3 linked regions of the Homo sapiens genome follow. The protein of the gene in region 3 interacts with the protein of the main gene of each other region in a biochemical or structural test. Each region holds a gene or a part of one and is shown on either strand. Other genes may lie near its edges.

Region 1 (7,912 bases), on a different chromosome or scaffold from region 3:
GCTTCTTCGTCAGCCTATCCAGCTCATCCTCTGGAGGCTGGCTCAGGGGCACCTGGAAGGTGGGAATCGGGCTCGGTCCTACTCTAGCTCCTGATGCTGTAATACCAGGGCCCTCAGCCGCCAGGCCATGGCCTGTTAGGAACTGGGCCACACAGCAGGAGCTGAGCAATGGGCAAGCAAAGCTTCATCTGTATTTACAGCTGCTCCCCATCACTTGCATTACCGCCTGAGCTCCACCTCCTGTCAGATCAGCAGCGGCGTTAGATTCTCATAGGAGCATGAACCCTATTGTGAACTGTGTGTTCGAAGGATGTAGGTTGCAAGCTCCTTATGAGAATCTAATGCCTGATGATCTGTCACTGTCTCCCATCACCCCCAGATGGGACTGTCCAGTTGCAGGAAAACAAGCTCAGGGCTCCCACTGATCCTACATGATGGTGAATTGTATAATTGTTTCGGTATATATTACATTGTAATATACATTGTAATATATACCGAAACAATTATATATACTATATATTCTATTATTATTATAACAGAAATAAAGTGCACAATGAATGTAATGTGCTTGAATCATCCTGAAACCATCCCCCTCCCACCCCCTCCCATCCCCCTCCCCAGTCCATGGAAAAATTGTTTTCCCCAAAACTGGTCCCTGGTGCCAAAAAGATTGGGGACTGCTATAATGTCTCTGAAGGTGGCCAGGCAGTTCCAGCTAGAAAGCTCATCTGAGAACATCTCAGCCCAGGGGCCCGTAGGCAGTTCTTTTTTTTTTTTTTTTTTTTTTTTGAGACAGAGTTTTGCTCTTGTTGCCCAGGTTGGAGAGCAGTGGTGCGATCTCGGCTCACCGCAACCTCCACCTCCCAGGTTCAAGTGATTCTCCTGCCTCAACCTCCCGAGTAGCTGGGATTACAGGCATGTGCCACCATGCCTGGCTAATTTTGTATTTTTAGTAGAGACGAGGTTTCTCCATGTTGGTCAGTGTGGTCTCGAACTCGTGACCTCAGGTGATCCACCCACCTCAGCCTCCCAAAGTGCTGGGATTACAGGCATGAGCCACCGCGCTCAGCCCCAATGGGCAGTTCTATCCTGCTCCCCCGCACTGCCCTGCCCTTACCTATTCCACGTCCCAGACCTCTGACTCTGCTCCAAAACCAGCCCCTTGGCCAGGCGCGGTGGCTCAGGCCTGCAATCCCAGCACTTTGGGAGGCTGAGGCAGGCGGATCACCTGAGGTCGGGAGTTCGAGACCAGCCTGGCCAACAAACTGGGGTTTTAGTGAAACCCCGTCTGTACTAAAAATACAAAAATTAACCAAGCGTGGCAGCGTGTGCCTGTAATCCAGTTATTCAGGAGGCTGAGGCAGGAGAATCACTTGAACCCGGGAGGCAGAGGTTGCAGTGAGCCAAGATGGCACCACTGCACCCCAGCCTGGGCAAACAAGAGCAAAACTCTGTCTCAAAAAACAAAAAAGCCCCCTAAAACACCACCAGCCACCCCACCCAGTCGGTGTCCCATTGTCTGTAGGGCCTGAAATCCCAGTTCCCCAGGGCTCACCTGGGGCCCGTGCTCGCCTCCTCTTCCTCTTCCTGCAGGGCCAGAGACCCCAGCAGCTTCCTCTTTGGCCCCTGGCCCTGGCTCTCTCTGGCTCCTATAGCCAGGCCCCCAGACTTCACCTCGGCCTGGGAGAGGAAAGTGGGGGCCCGGGAGGGGCCCAGAGGCCTGAGAGGCTCCCCGCCTGGGTGGGCCGCAGCCCCTCACTGGCTGTGCCACCTTCACTTGCACGGGGAAGGCTGGGCCAGCCGGGGTGCTGGCGGTAGTGTAAGAGGCTGGAGTGGGGCCCCCATAGGGAGACGCTGGGAGCGGCGAGGCTGGATTTGGCTTCAGGGAGCCCGTGCGGTAGGCAGGAGGTGGCGGGGGCTCATATGCCTGAGGAGAAACGCAGGCCAGAAGTCGTAAGCAAGGACCCCACTCCAAGACCCACATTTGTGGAAATGACCCTGGCTGTGGGGAAGCACAGGCTTTTTGCATTTGACAAGGTCCCGTCCTCAAGTGGCTGACATGTTGGTACTTGCAGCCACGCTTCCTCCATGCTGGGGTGCACATTACACACATGGGGGATCGATCAGGCTGGGTCTGAGAGTCCAGAGAAGGGGGCAGGGTGCTGACGGGGAGGAGGGGCAGAGTCACCTGTCGGTCTGGTCGCCGTGACGCATGACCCCGACCCCCATTCAGCTCGGCCAGCGTGCTGCTCAGCAAGTCTATCTCGGCGTCCAGGCTTCCAGGGCGAAGGCCCCCCCTGTCTGCAGGGAGCCCCTGAGGATGGAGCCAGGGCAGGAAGAATGCAAATCACCATAGGCCTTCTCCTGTCCTGGGTCCCTCAGACTCGGTTCTGGGGGATCCCACATGTCCCACCCCACGATCCCGGGTCTCACCTGCGTGTGCTGGAGTACTCCATGGGACCCCACCCACGCCGGCCCCCGATCCTCCGGTCCCCCTGGGGCCTGGTAACACTGCTCAGATGGAAGGGGGCAAAAATTGACCCTGGGGTGGGGCTGGAGTGCTGGGTTGAGGGAAGAGAAATCAAAGGTGGGGTGGCGGAGGACAGGAGGGGTGTATATTTGAGGAGCCACCCTCTCCGCCTCTCGTTACCTCCTCCCCCAAATCTAGGGTCCCAAGAGAGCGCAGGCGGCTGTTCCCCCCGCCTCGGCTTGGGGAAGGGGCAGGAGGAAGCAGCCAGGGCGGGAGGCTGGAGCGGTAGGACAGAGGTGAGCGCCACAGCTGGGTGGCTCTTCTGTCTCACAAGGGCTGCCTTACCTGCTCCGTGGGCCGGTGGTGGCCCCGGGGTGCCGCGGGGGATCGCCCTCCCCTGAGGGGCTCTGGCGGGCTCCGGCTGCTTCGGGGGCAGCCAGGTGGGCCCCGACATGGCCTGGAAAGGGGGACTCCAGACAGCGGTCTTGAAGCCCCGAGCCTCTGGCCTTCACCCCCTCTTCCGTCCCGCACCTCGTTTGGGACTCCAGAAAAGAAAACTTTTTCTGGCTTTTTTTTTTCCTCTTCCTCCCTAATTTTGGGGACGACCACGCCTCCGATGACGTCACCACATTCCTGGGGGAGGGTCACGTGGCCCCCTAGGCCCTAAACTGCCATTTCTCCCTGAGTCAGCCCCCTCCTGCCGAGAGGGGAGGGCTCTCCGGGGGATCCCGAGTCACTGGGGGTTGCGGGCAGCTGGGGATGGGAGGTGCGGGCCCGAGCCAGCCTCCAAGTCCACGGATGCGTCCGGGCCCCGCACCCCAGCCCTGCACGTGGCAGCCTCGCGGCGGGAGGCTGAAGGCTCCGATCTCCACCCCTCTGCAGAGCTCTCCATTCCCACCCCCTCCCTCTCAGCTACCCACCAGCACTGCTCAGCCAGCCTGTAGTGTTTTGGTCTTTTATTCATGGTCAGCAGAGTTAGAAAAATAAAACAGAACGAAAACATCACCACCCCAGTGGGCCGGTGAGTCTGGCCAAAATGGGGAAACTGAGGTAGCCCAGAGTCACAGAGGAGGCCTGGCCCCTAGCATCAAGGCACCAGTGAAGGGAGGCTGCGGACTCCCTCCCCTGCACGGTGGGGACAGCCACCCAGAGTTAGTGTGCTGGGGTCCCTCTGCCAAAGGAGGTGGGCGTGATGCCCAAGCCCAGGATCCCCTTCAAACCTCCCCTGGGCTCCACGTCCCAAGGGCAGGGCCACGGGCCACAGTGGCCTCCTCTTCCTCCTCCTCCAAGGATCAGGATAGGCCGCCTGCCTGGGCCCTCTCTACCTAGCCCTGGAGGCAGGGGCATCACAGATCAGTGCAGGTGACTGGAGTGACCCCATGAACCAGCAGCGTGGGGCCCAGGTCTCGGGTTAGAGTCTCCAGTAGCGCCAGGTAGCGGGGGTATCGGGCGGGATCGGCTGGCGGCCGAGGCAAGTACAGGAAGGTGAGGGCTGTGATGGGGCCCTCAGCATCCCCACCCTCCGGCCCACCCGGCCCTCCTCCTGTGCCGCGCCCCTGCTGGGCCCGAACCAGGGCGTTGGCGCTGCGTGCCAGGGCCTCTGCCTCTGCGTCTCCCCGCCCACTGTTCACAAAGTCCCCTTCCTCCTCCGCCTCGGGTTCCCCAGCCCCGGCCCCCTCGCCCCACACCACCTCCTGCACCTCAGCCCGGATCCTCAGTTGGCTCAGCAGTGCCCGCAGCCGCCCCTCGGCCGCCCCAGGCGCCTCCCGAGGCCCCAGGCACAGGAAGATCCGGAGCCGGGCGCTATGCCAAGCGGGCACCATGCCCAAGATGGTTGCCATCTGCAGCAGGAAGAGGCCGCAGACATCCACATAGCCGGGCCCACCCCGGGGCCGCAGCAGGTTGAGGGGCCACACGTCCACATGGTGCAGCTGAGAGGTGCCCCCAGACCCCCGGCTCAGCCGCTCAGGGGGCAAGGCCCCGCTGGCCCGGGCCAGCACCACATTCTTGTTCATCTTGAGGGCGTCGGCCACCGTGGCCACATAGTCCTGGGGATTGAGGGCCCGGGGGCTCCCAGGAGCCCGGGGAGGAGGGAACAGGGTGCTCAGAGCTGGGGAACTGCCCTCCCTGGTGCTGTCTGCAGGCTCAGAGAAAGCCGGGTCCGTCAGGAAATGGTCCTGCGGTGGAGCGTCATCGTAGAAACCTAGGACCAACGTGTTGGGCTTCATGCCACCTGGGGGCAGAGCGGGGAAGGCAGGAACAGACAGGAGTCAGGCTCACAGGCTAAGTTTACACCACGCTCCCACACACTGACAGCAAGGTGCGTCAGCCATAGGTATGACATTCCCACTGTGTACGGGCTCTTACGGCAACATTCTGCATATTTGCATAAAGACTTTTCATTTTTCCTAAACACTTTCACATGCATTTATTTTATTATCTCAGTGACTAATCTCCTCCACTTAAACAGGCAAAGTTCGCCTTAGGATTCTTGCCACTAATGAGCACTCCAATTCTATGGAGAGGAGGATGCTGTCCACTCCCGGCTTCTAGCGGGGCATCTGTTTCACGGCAGGGGATGCGAGTTTGACTCTGTTGTGCAAACCAGACACCCTGATCAGCCAAGCTCATGACCTGAATCCCCAGGGTAATAGCGTCCCAGACTCTGCAATGGGAAGATGAAAAAATGGACCAGGCAGGGCACCGTGGCTCACACCTGTAATCGCAGCATCTTGGGAAGCTGAGGCACGTTGATCACCTGAGATCAGGAGTTTGAGACCAGCCTGGCCAATACGGTGAAATGCTATCTCTACTAAAAATACAAAAATTAGCCGGGCATTGTGGTGGGCATCTATAATCCCAGCTACTCAGGAGGCTGAGACATGAGAATTGCCTGAACCCGGAAGGTGGTGGTTGTAGTAAGCCGAGATCACGCCACTGCACTCCAGCCTGGGCAACAGAGCGAGACTCCATCTCAAAAAAAAAGAAAAAAAGAAACAGGGCTACCCCGTATGTTTACTGCAGTAAACCCTAACCCTAGTAGGTTTTACCAAAACCCTAATCATGGTGGTTCATTGCATGGTATCCGCTTACCAGGGGCTATGTCCTGTAGAAAGCACTTTATATTTTAACTTATTTGAAACTCGAAGTAATGCTATGAGGTAGGTAATATTTAGTCTCCTCTTTTTACTGATAAGGAGCCCAAAGCACCAAGGGATGAAGTCACTTGCCCATAGGCTCATATCTGGTAGGTACTGGGGCAGGTAGGTCAACGCAATCCGCCTCCATCCAGCGTGAGAGGCCACACTCTGAGCCACCGAGCTGGGCACGTGGCAACCACAATGCTCCAAGTCCCTGCTGACAAGCTCTTCGTTCTTAATTTTTGAACAACCCTTGTGGAATCGGATAATTGCTGAGTTTACAGGGAGACGCAGAGACCTCTTCCAAGACCCCTTCTCATGAAACAAACACTGCTCAAGCCATAAATCAAATTTTCTATGACAGGAGAATCCACCATTTAAAGGAACTACTTTTCCTTTTATTGGAATAGGTTGGTGCAAAAGTAATTGTGGTTCTTTTTTTCCCCCATTAAAATGGCATCCCAGCACTTTGGGAGGCTGAGGCAGGCGGATCACCTGAGGTTGGAAGTTCGAGATCAGCCTGGGCAATATGGTGAAACCCCGTCTCTACCAAAAATATACAAAAATTAGCCGGACAATGCTGGCGTATATCTGTAGTCCCAGCTACTTGGGAGGCTGAGATGGGAGAATACTTGAACCCGGGAGGCAGAGGTTGCAGTGAGCTGACATTGTGCCACTGCACTCCAGCCTGGGCAACAGAGTGAGACCCTGTCCAAAAAAAAAAAAAAAAAAAGGCAAAAACCGCAATTGCTTTTGCACCGACCTGATATCTTCCACAGGAAAAATTTCGTATTTCATAAGCATTGTGGTCTCTGCACAAAAAGTGAAGACCAGGCTCTCAGATGTTCTGTGGGTCAATGATGCTTGACGACACCCCAAAACATCTCCGCAGGTGTGAATTCCAGCTGATCTTGCAAAATAAACTAGTCATGCCCCCTCCTCAGTATTTCCCAGGGTTCTGATTTACACTGAACTGGGCAATGTCCAACACTGTTGAACTTTAGCCAGACTCTGAATAGAGAAGGAAGCATGCACTTTGGTGACGGGCACTGGTCCAGGATTAAGGGAAAAGGCAGTGACTGAGCATAGATAACCCTGGTGGCCTCAGCGCTAAAAGCTGAGAATTTACCGCTCCATCCACAGACGTCCGCCCCACACAGCCTCCGGCATCCTTTGTGGCTTTGGGTGGCGGGGGCAGGGGAGACATGTTACATCTCCTACATCCCAACCTCTTTCAAAGTCTGGATGAATTACCATCTCTCCGCAAAACCTTTGCTGGCCACATCAGTGTATAGTGGCTGGCCTGCCTTCCTCTGAACACTGGTGGTTAAAAACCATCTGATTTGATGAGGCAGCTGGAGATTCAAATAATGCTCCATTGTCTCCAAAAATACACTCTTCAGTGCCTATGCCCCAATTTTTGGATCAGAAAAAAAAAGAAGGAAAGGCTGGGCACAGTGGTACATGCCTGTAATCCCAGCACTTTGGGAGGCCGAGGCGGGTAGATCACCTGAGGTCAGGAGCTCGACACTGGCCTGGGCAACATGGTGAAACCCCCATCTCTACTAAAAATACAAAAATTAGCCAGGTATGGTAGCACATGCCTATAGTCCCAGATATTTGGGAGGCTAAGACAGGAGAATCACTTGAACCTGGGAGGTGGAGGAGGCAGTGAGCCAAGATCGTGCCACTGTACTCCAGCCTGGGCAAGACAGAGTGAGACTCCGTCTCAAAAAAAAAAAAAAAAAAGAAGAAGGAAAAAAAACCCACAACATCGCCCACCCCATCACTAGTCCCTAGCATCTCCTATTAGACCTTATCACACACTGTCTGAGGCTATTATCTTTGAGCACTGTCTTATCTCCTCTCGACTATAAGGTCCTTTTGCAGTTTGCAATCTGTGGCTGACTCTCTAGGGGAGGGGAGCGGAGATTTGAAGTGGCCACAGAGGAAGGCCGAGGGCATCCAGGGAGAAGCAGCTCACCGAGGCCGGAGATTCGCAGCAGATGCTGAGCCCCCTGGCGCACGGAGGGTGAGAGGGTTAGATCCACAAAAGCCTTCACCTGGGCACGGTCCACCAGGCTGAGCCATGCCCCATACTGCGGCTGTACAGGGTCCGAGGGCAGGGAGTCTACAGAGAAGATAAGGAAAGGAAGGTAGCCAGTGTTGTCCAAACTCAATGTCTCCTAGAGTCCAAATCACAGACGGGCCTGGGCAGGGCTATGGCTACTTGGAGGGGTCATGGGAAAGGATAAAAGGGGCAGAGGGGCTGGTGTCGGGGCTCATGCCTGTAATCCCTGCC
Region 2 (2,886 bases), on a different chromosome or scaffold from region 3:
GGCCCACCTTGGAAACCCCTGATGGATCCCTGCTCCCAGGGTCCTGAGACTTAAGCTCCGCCCAGAGCCCTGCGGGATTTCTCCCGGTGCCCACGAAGTCCATCCCAAAGCAACCAGCTCCCAGAGGTCCCGTCCACCTGTAAAAGCAGCCCGCAAGCCTCGCCCCTCCAGGCCTCGCCCTCCCTCCTTGCAGAGAGTGGCCAAGCTCGTGTTCCAGAGGCTGAATGAGGATTTTGTGCGGAAGCCCGACTATGCTTTGAGCTCTGTGGGTAAGACCCGGAGACACTGGAAGACAGAGACGCAGACAGGAAAGAGGCCAAGACACTGACACAGACAGACCCATGCACCTGACCGGCCGAAGACAGAGCCTCGGACAGCCCCCACCCGCCCCCAGCCCCCGCGCCCCCGCGCCCCGACTCCCGGCAAGGCCTGGGAGCCTCTGAGGGTTACTTCTCACTGTTCCAGGAGCCTCCATCGACCTGCAGAAGACATCCCACGATTACGCAGACAGGAACACTGCCTACTTCTGGAATCGCTTCAGCTTCTGGAACTACGCACGGCCGCCCACGGTTATCCTGGAGGTGAGTCTGGAAACATCCCGGGATGGGACCCCGGGCGGGACGCTGGGAAAAGCACCAAAACCCCGCCCTACAGGCGGAGCTTGGCTGAGCCGAGGGCGTGGAGGATGGCGTTTAACTCAAGGAGAGACCTGGCATTGCTGGGGACTGGGGCGGGCTGGAGGTGGAGCTCTGGGCGGGTCGATGGATGGGGTCGAGCTGAGGCCCGGGCTGGGGAGCGGCAGCAGTCGCTCTGTCCGACGGTTCCGATGGTCCCTCCGCCCGCCTGCAGCCCCACGTGTTCCCTGGGAATTGCTGGGCTTTTGAAGGCGACCAAGGCCAGGTGGTGATCCAACTGCCGGGCCGAGTGCAGCTGAGCGACATCACTCTGCAGCATCCACCGCCCAGCGTGGAGCACACCGGAGGAGCCAACAGCGCCCCCCGCGATTTCGCGGTCTTTGTGAGTGCGGACGAGGTCAGGAGGTGGGGGATTTTGCCTAGAGAGCCCAAGCAGTCTTGAGAACTGGTGCCGTTATCTGAGTCTTCGCTTGCTCATCTATAAAATGAAGATACTACTATTTGCCTCTCAGAGCTGCTGTAGGTTATAGTCATAACCATATCCAGATATTAGTTATTGCTTGCAAAGCACTTACTCCGTGCCAAGCAGTTTACAGGCATTCTTATTTTGCTGTTGTTTTTGAGACAGTCTCGCTCTTGTCACCCAGGCTGCTGGAGTGCAGTGGTGCCATCTCAGCTCACCTGCAACCTCAGCCTCTAGGATTCAAGCGATTCTTGTGCCTCATCCTCCCGAGTAGCTGGAATTACAGGCGTGCGCCACCATGCTCGGCTAATTTTTGTATTTTTAGTAGAGATGGGGTTTCACCATGTTGGCCAGGATGGTCTCAAACTCCTGACCTCAAGTGATCCGCCTTCCTCGGCCTTCTGAAATGCTAGGATTACAGGCATGAGCCACCGTGCCTGCTTTGCACCCACATAACAACCTATGATGTACTGTTATCTCCCCCTTTAAAGATGAAGAAAGTAATGCTCAGAGAGGGGAAGTTATTTTTCCAAGGTAATACAACTAACAGTTGGCAGGATTAAATTTAAAACCTGGTTTCTTCCCGGGAGGTGGAGCTTGCAGTGAGCCAAGATCTCACCACTGCACTCCAGCCTGGGTGACAGAGCAACACTCCGTCTCAAAATAAATAAATAAATAAAACCTGGTTTCTTAGAGCCCACATTCTGAATTACAGTGTACGACCATCAAAAAATACATGAGAACATGCATATAGCTATTGAATACACAGAAGATCCTCAGCAAAGTTTTCTTCTCCCCGCCCCCCCCGCCCCACCTGTCCCCCTCATAGTTCCTCCTTTCATTCTTCACCCACCAGGGCCTCCAGGTTTATGATGAAACTGAAGTTTCCTTGGGGAAATTCACCTTCGATGTTGAGAAATCGGAGATTCAGACTTTCCACCTGCAGGTGTGTTTGTCTCTAGGGTGAAGGTGCCAAGGGAGTGGGGCAGTGAGGGATGAATGATCCAGGAGGAGGGCAGCCCTTGGCATGATCCATTTGTCTCCCCAGAATGACCCCCCAGCTGCCTTTCCCAAGGTGAAGATCCAGATTCTAAGCAACTGGGGCCACCCCCGTTTCACGTGCTTGTATCGAGTCCGTGCCCACGGTGTGCGAACCTCAGAGGGGGCAGAGGGCAGTGCACAGGGGCCCCATTAAACATGCTGATTTTTGGAGTAGAATTGAGTTCTGCTGAAGGATACTGGATCAGTGCTTTCGGGGGCTCTGTTGGGAGAGCTCTGGCTGCCGTTGCATCTAAGTATGGAGGGGCTGACTTCCCAATGCACCCTCTTTTCTTGGAGAAGTCTTGATCAAGATCGTAATAGCAGCTCCTGTTTATGGAGTGCCTACCACGTACAAGAAACAGTGCTGTGGACATTACACACATTACCTAACTTCATTCTCACAACCAGAAAGGGAAGCTGCTCAGGTCAGGAAACTTGTTCAATGTCACACAGCTAGTGAAAGGCAGTGACAGAGCAGTACCCAGGCCCACCTTCCTCCAGAGCCAGTCCTCTAACTGCAGAGCTGCAGGCAGCCTGAACCCACCTTTGTGCTCAATTCCCAGCCCCAGTGGGAAAGTCCCCAACTCCTGCTAGGTACCGGTGGAGGGGTAGCTACCCACCTTCTGCAGGCACACACTCAAAAGCTAAGGAGACTTGATAACCTCTAGGAAGCTTCTGAGTCACAGAGCTGATGCAGGCCTGGTAGCCCCTACATAGGTTGTCTTACTGAGACCTGAGTTCCCAACT
Region 3 (7,330 bases):
ATCAAATTCCCAGAAGACAGTCAGATCAGCCAGCTTTGGTTTCATGCCTGCCCTTTGGCTAGGCAACTTACTGGCAGCACTTAATGGTGGAGGGTGGGAGTGGGGAGCGGAGAAAGTTATTTTACCAAAAGAAGATGCCATGGATGATGGACAGACCAAATTCCAGATGTCCATTCCAGGGAGACTTCCCCAATGGCCTGCTTAGGGGGATGGCAGGGGCCAAAGGTGGGCTTAGCGATTCAGTACACAGCTGATTTCTTGAGAGTACAATATCAGAAAGTGTTTCATTATAAAACTGGTGATATCCTCATAGAAGAAATTTGGAAATCACAGAAAAGTCTAGAAAAAATAATTTTAAAAGCCATCTATGATTCTACTAGCCAGAGTTAACCACAGCTAATTTTTCAGGGTGTTTCTCTCCTTTTTTTTTTTTTTTTTTTTGTGACAGGGTCTCACCCTATTGCCCAGGCTGGAGTGCAGAGGTGCAATCATAACTCAATGTAGCCTAGAGCCTCTGGGCTCAAATGATCCTCCCTCCTCATTTTCCTGAGTAGCTGGGACCATAGGCATGTGCCACCATACCTGGCTAATTTTTAAATATTTTTGTAGAAGATGGGGTCTCACTATGTTGCCCAAGCTGGTCCCAAACTCCTGGCCTCAAGTGATTCTCCCCACCTCGGTCTCCCAAAGTGCTGGAATTACAGGTGTGAGCCACCACACCTAGCCTATGGATTCTTTTTTACAGAGTTCAGGTCACACTGTGTGTATACTTTCATATTTGATGTTTAAGCACTGTGTACTGACCTAACAACTGTTAGAAAAGTGTCTTTGTAACATTGGTCTGGTGACGAGACTTGAGCTGTAGCTGTGCTACCTGCTGGAAGAGGCAGAGGGGACCTTCTTTGGCTCATGATTTCACCAACATTGGGGACCAAGCAAGTGTTGCCCAACTTGGGAAAGTGTCAAGACCTGCCTTCCATCCAGAGGAGGTTCTATCCGGACACCAGCCAAGGTGAATGAGAGATTCCATGGACATAGTCCTGCATACGGAAGGTCCTAGTTCCATATTAGAATCCATATTAAAATCCTTCTGATATGAATAGATCACATTTCCATCTCATCATTAAAGAAGACACTACCTTTATTTAGTCACTTAAAATGATAAGAATATACTTCATGATGAAGAGTAAAATCACTAGGAAGGGACAGGAGTGGTGACTCATGCCTGTAATCCCAGCACTTTGGGAGGCCAAGGTGAGCAGATGGCTTGAGCCCAGGAGTTTGAGACCAGGCTGGGCAACATGGTGAGACCCCATTTCTACAAAAAATACAAAAGTTAGGCAGGCATGGTAGTGCATGGCTATAGCCCCAGCTACTGGGGAGGCTGAGGTGGGAGGCTCACCTGAGCTCAGGAGGTCAAGGCTGCAGAGAGCACATGCCACTGTGCTCCAGCCTGGGTGACAGAGTAAGACCCTGTCTCAAAATAAAAAAAGAAAAATCACTAGGAAGGTGGGATAATGGGAGAATCCTAGTTGAAATATAGCTATACCCATCTTAATAATGTACCATGTATACACAGATGTGTGTATTTAGGCACCTGAACTTGTGTATATAATAATATTAAACTGAGAGCTTGCCTGCTTCAATCTTTGCTGACATTTGCTAAGGGATAGAATTCAAGGTGATATAAGAATTCTCTGTCACCTGGAGCTAGAGAAATCTGTACAACTCCTGCAATTAACTCTCAGGAAAGAGTAGGCCATATTTCTATTAATAGGGTCCACCCCTCAGAATCAAATCACAGTGGAATCACTTTTAAAGAGGTCAGAATTTGTCCATAGAGGAGAATCATTCAGCTTTGCTTTTTGACTCATTCCACGTGACTCAAGGGGCCAGCCTCTCATTCTAATGCCTCTAGGGACACTTGTTTGCTAAGACACATTATCTGCACAGAAAAGGGCCTCCTAAGTCAAGGCTGGGGAACATCGAGCCATTGGGAATGCCATGCTTGGTCTAGTGACTCCCAAGGGACTCCAGCTGAGGGGGCTGTCGCCCTCTGTTACTCCTTCTATGAGCCTTTCATGGACTCCTTCACTCTCCTCATTTCTACTTATTTTTCCCTGGGAGTCGGCTTCAGCTCTCTTTTTAAATTCTGAATTATCTTGCCTGTTTCCAGGGTTCCAACTACCTATGGAATTGTGGCTTCCTAATTTATATCTCTAGCCCAGGCTTTCCTCAAATTCCAGACCCTCTTATCCACAGAATACTCCAGATTTCTACCTTAAAGTTGTCACCAGCACCACCTGTTCACCAAATCCCCAAACTTACTCTTCTCCCTGTGTTATTTTTATCTCAGTGGCACCAAGAGTCTGCCAAGCTTGAAAGCTGGAAGTCACCACTGATTCCTCCCTCACTCCATCCTCACTCTGTTCACTAAATCCTGTTGAATTCACCCAGATGGTCATTCAGTGAGTACATTTCAAGCACCTGCTATGTGCCAGGCATTGTGTTAGGTATCTACTGCGAAGCAAAAATAGACAAGGTCCTTGCCCTCGTGGCTTACAGTCCAGCTGGGGAAACAATATCATGAAGGAAATGTATCCTAAGTTAAGAGAGTGTTTAGTCTGGGAGACAGAGAAGGCTTCCCCAAGAAAGGGGGAGATCTAAAGGGTGCCTTAAGAATTAAATGGATGAAAGTCATAGGTGGGGAGTTCAATTTCTAAGCAGGCAGAACGTCCTGTGTATGAGCTCTGAATGAGGTGGAAGGAATGAGGAATGTCCTTCAAGGGACTAAGGAACGGCCTCTGGAAAGTGAGTGGTCTTCCAGGAAGGCCATCGTGGCTGAGGGGTAATGAATTGCAATAATACTAGGATGGGAGAGGAGAGTGGGGAAGTGGGAGAGGCCCCATTGCTCAGCACCTGGTAAAGATTTTGGTCCTTTTTTTGAGAGGACAGAGAAGACTTTTAAGGTGAGTGGGATGATGGGTGGGGAAGGTTGAGGAATGACAGATTTCTATATGAAAGTCGCTGTGGCTACAATGTGGAAAATGGATTAGATGGGGCCTGGGCAGAGGTGGGGGAAGGCTTTCCCATTGGCTTCCTCCTTGCCATCCCCATAGCCATGATCCCCAGTCCAGATTTTTGTTGTCTCTTCTTGTCTTGCAGCAGAAAACCCCACTACTATTGTCCCTAGCAACTTACCTTCAGTGTGGCTGTCTCACTTCTGACAAAAGAAAAGAAAATCAACAATCCTTCGTTGGGCTCAAAATAAAGTTCAGAGTCCTTAGTCTGGCTACAGGTCCCTTCAAACCTGGCCCTTGTCTCCCTCACCAGTGTCACATCCAACCACTTGTCATCAATACCTGAGCTCTAGTTCATACAAGGGAGACTCGAGAGCTGGACCGCAGTTTGAGGTGAAAGGACCAGAGGAGTAGAGGCACCGAGAGCCAAATCTGAGGCCGAATCAGAGGTCTAGGATGTTAACTGAACAGAAAGTAAAGGAAACTGGCCGAAGCGGGGGTTTCAGGCAGTTGGCTTCCAGCATCTTCAGGCGGTTGGCTACAAGAACATCAAAGACCAACATTTGGGAAGCACTCAGGGACAAGACATCCGGAGGCTTGGATGCAAGACCAAAGGTGTAGTTGATGGGAGGTAGTTCCCCAGGACAGGCCCCCGAGGACTGACAGATGGGAGCTTAAGGACAGGACCCCCAACCAGTAGAGAAATGAGGTTCCCGAACAGCCATGACCACAGCTGGCGCAGAATGGGCAGGACTCAGAGACTTGTAACTCAGAAGGTCAAGGACAATGGCTGACTTGAGGATGACTTGGTAGGAGGAGAATGATGAGAACATTCTTTATATTCTACCTGTCTGGAGACAGAATGAATTCTAGAACAAAAGGAGCAAGGCCAAGCTTCCAATCAAGGCTAGAGCTAGAAGGTCATGGAGAAAGGCGTGGGCAGCTCCTGCCTTCGCCTGCACCAAGTTCAACAAACACACAGTCATAGCCATGGCTGGTCCCCAGAGCACACACAAGGCAAGGATGTTAGTGGCCAGCCCCATGCACCCCGATGAGCTATGCTCGCTTGGGAGACCCATCCTCCTTGAAGGTGAGTGAAATCTCAACACGAGTATGGTTCTGAGAGTAGCTCTGTAACTCTGAGGATGGTCTCTGGAGACCATGACTGTGTACAGTTCACATGGTAACCAGAAGACTATGACATACTTCAGAAGGTGGTGAGGTCATAGAACACAAGCTTTAAAGTAAGTGAATCATGTGTGCCTCATTTATTTTTAAAAGCAACTTCTGAGAAGGGCTTAGAACAAATTTTTTCCCGGAGTGCCATTTCCCAAAGGTACTCACAGAACAATCAGGTGTGACCATAATGGCTGCACTGAGTTGTCTCTTGGACAGTGTCAGAAGGGACATAAAGAAGGTGGACAGAGAACTAAGGCAACTGAGATGCATCGACGAATTTAGCACACGGTGCCTGTGCGACTTGTATATGCACCCCTATTGCTGCTGTGACTTGCACCCATATCCGTACTGCTTGTGCTATTCCAAGCGATCACGCTCTTGCGGCCTGTGTGATCTCTACCCATGTTGCCTGTGTGATTATAAGCTTTACTGTCTGCGACCATCTCTCAGAAGTTTGGAGAGGAAAGCCATCAGAGCCATAGAAGATGAGAAGCGAGAGCTTGCCAAGTAAAATAACTTATTTTTAAATTTTTATAGTCGGTATATTAGCCTTATAAGTTGGAATAAGGAAAAATATGTGACAATCAATAGTTGAACAAAGATTAAAAGGGTTCAGGATAATGACCCTGGTGACTTAGGAAAGATTTAAGGAAAGAAGAGTAAATGAGTCCATGATGGGAATTGTAGGGTTCTCAAAAGACAATGTAATGATGTCGATTGGCAAGGTCGTCGGTGGTTTATAGCAAGAATGCCAGTATGATAAATAATGCGGCTTTAATGAAGGGAAGAAACAGGGGGTGTCATTAAAAAGCCATTGGAAGCAGCAAACTAAACATTTTTCCTGGTTATGAGTAAAGTGATTTGAGTATATTTGGACTTACAGAAATGACTACAGGAGAAGTAATAATAATAGATCAAATCCTTAATGTGTGCCAGAGGCTTTACAAGCAGGAGAGCAAATTGAACAGTAGAGGCATTGCCTTGGTTTTGTGGGAATATCATTCTCCTATCCCCCCACTCCAGGCAAAGACTTACCTTGTATCTGGAATTAGGTCTATCATGTTGGCCTCCCCTCTAACTCTAGCAAAGGTCTTGCAAATAAACTATGGCACTGAGTTGTAGCTTTCAGGATAGACTTGAAAGGCTTTTTAATTGAATTGGGTAATTAAAAAGAGTCAGTTTTTTAAAAAAATTTTTGTTTTAGATTATATTTTCTTTTTGCCTGGAGAAAACTTTCCTTTTCTAACTTTTTACATATGCCATTTAGTCTGTTACTGTTGATGAAAAAGATGGTTGAAAGTGCTGTCCCTGGTTAAATAAATAATACATTCATGCACTGGAATAATAAGTAAATATAGAAAGGATTGATGAAGCATCTTACATATTGATGTATTAAGTCAAACAAGCAAAGTGCAGAAAAACTGATAGACAGATGACAGATAGATAGATAGATAGATAGATAGATAGATAGATAGATGATAGATAGATAGAGTCTCTTGACAACAGTGACAGTGATGTTTCTTTGGAAAAAGCAATAGGAGGCCGGGTGCATTGGCTCATGCCAGTAATCCCAGCACTTTGGGAGGCGGAGGCGGGCAGATCACCTGAGCTCAAGAGTTCGAGACCAGCCTGGCTAACATGGTGAAACCCCATCTCTACTAAATACAAAAAAAAAAAAAAAAAAAAATTAGCCAAGCGTAGTGGCACGTGCCTGTAATCCCAGCTACTCGTGAGACTGAGGCAGGAGAATCACTTGAACCCAGGAGGCAGAGGTTGCAGTGAGCCAAGATTGCACCACTACACTCCAGACCGGGTGACAAAGTGAGACTGTCTCAAAAAAAAAAAAAAAAAAAGGATAATTATTGTCTAGGTCACCAGCCACCAATGGTCAGGAATGAACCTCCCTCATAGCCTGGGAGCTTTCACCTGTAAATTCATCTATACTCTTTGAACCAATGTTTGTTTTTATTTCTTAGGGCATCAAGTCACATAAATTGCTCACACTGTGAGGCAGGGACTCTTTTTAAAATATTTGGTCCAAGTTAAGGTTTCCTTGTGAGCAGATCAGTATCCACTCTCCTCCTACTTTTGGATACTTGAATACCCTTGTCCAGGTCTTTCCAGCCTCTGTCTTCCTGGCTTCTCTCCTATCCCCAGACTCTACCAATTAAAATCCCTCTCTGTCCTGTGCTGTCTACTCTCTTGATGCCTCTTTCAGAAGCCTTGTTTCTTGGCATGCAGTAGAAACAGCTTCAAGCTTAATTCTCGGCAGTGTAGTTTAGGCAAGAGGTAATGTTTTCTCTGGTTTGTGATGCTCTTCCTGACAGCGTCTGGGTCTTTGCCTATTTTTTCTCTGCCTGCAGGCAATATGTGAAGCTGGTGATGTCTTTACATTAATTTCTGGATCTCGGAAATGATAACTCCAAGTCCATTGTAGAAATGACCTCAGGCTTGTCCGCTTTATCTCTTCCAATTCACACCACCTTGTGAAATTTCTATGCTCTATTTCTGACAACTTGACATTTCACTCTCCAGAAGGGCTTAGTGTCACTTGCAAACCTAAATATTCAATTTTCCTGAATATGGGTGAAAATGTTAAACCCTGATTCTAGCCTCAGTCCCAGAAGGCCCCCAGTGTAGTATTTTTTCTTCTAGTGCAGTGCCTTTTATTCTTATCTCTAAGCTAGCGCCTGATCCATAACTAAATAGATGCAGAAATATCATGTTGATTCAATTTTTTAAAACAATCTTTGGTGTGAAAGCTTGCCCAAGGCTTTTTGAGTTTAGAATTCATATTCACATGACCTTCCTCCCCTTTAAAGAATGCAAGGGGGTTGGTTAGTTATGACATATCCTTTCAGATGGCAGGCTGTGTTGTCCAGAAGGTTCTTTGCCCAATATGAAGTAAAGACTCTATAGTCTATAGTTGCCTTGGCCCCCTTGAAACTGTTTTTCTGTGTCACAGTCAATCTGCTGTGTCTCTGGGTCCTCCTTTAATAACTGGTAAAAAGCCTCAACCAACAATTTCTTAATTGATCCCACAGGTTTCTTGAGCACTCCTGACTATATGTTATTTGATTGATGCATGTGTGTGGTGTTTTCTTAGACTGGGCATAGAAAATCCAATCCAA

The links.
Region 1: the proteins of ODF1 (region 3) and TRIP6 form a complex in vitro, tested with the Homo sapiens proteins (one study listed by BioGRID).
Region 2: the proteins of ODF1 (region 3) and SPAG4 form a complex in vitro, tested with the Homo sapiens proteins (one study listed by BioGRID).

The regions. Positions count from the first base shown.
Region 1 is NC_000007.14:100,862,510-100,870,421, reverse strand, and holds the start of TRIP6 (thyroid receptor-interacting protein 6), read right to left. Parts: upstream 3,036-7,912; 5' UTR 2,925-3,035; coding exon 2,816-2,924; intron 2,562-2,815; coding exon 2,434-2,561; intron 2,387-2,433; exon of another isoform or gene 2,315-2,386; coding exon 2,189-2,314; intron 1,928-2,188; coding exon 1,556-1,927; intron 53-1,555; coding exon 1-52. Other genes in the region: SLC12A9 (solute carrier family 12 member 9), read right to left, coding at 3,817-4,703, 7,595-7,741. UniProt on the Homo sapiens protein: Relays signals from the cell surface to the nucleus to weaken adherens junction and promote actin cytoskeleton reorganization and cell invasiveness. Involved in lysophosphatidic acid-induced cell adhesion and migration.
Region 2 is NC_000020.11:35,618,730-35,621,615, forward strand, and holds the end of SPAG4 (sperm-associated antigen 4 protein), read left to right. Parts: intron 1-193; coding exon 194-269; intron 270-465; coding exon 466-581; intron 582-849; coding exon 850-1,017; intron 1,018-1,954; coding exon 1,955-2,044; intron 2,045-2,146; coding exon 2,147-2,293; 3' UTR 2,294-2,365; downstream 2,366-2,886. UniProt on the Homo sapiens protein: Involved in spermatogenesis. Required for sperm head formation but not required to establish and maintain general polarity of the sperm head. Required for anchoring and organization of the manchette.
Region 3 is NC_000008.11:102,547,342-102,554,671, forward strand, and holds the start of ODF1 (outer dense fiber protein 1), read left to right. Parts: upstream 1-4,247; 5' UTR 4,248-4,386; coding exon 4,387-4,706; intron 4,707-7,330.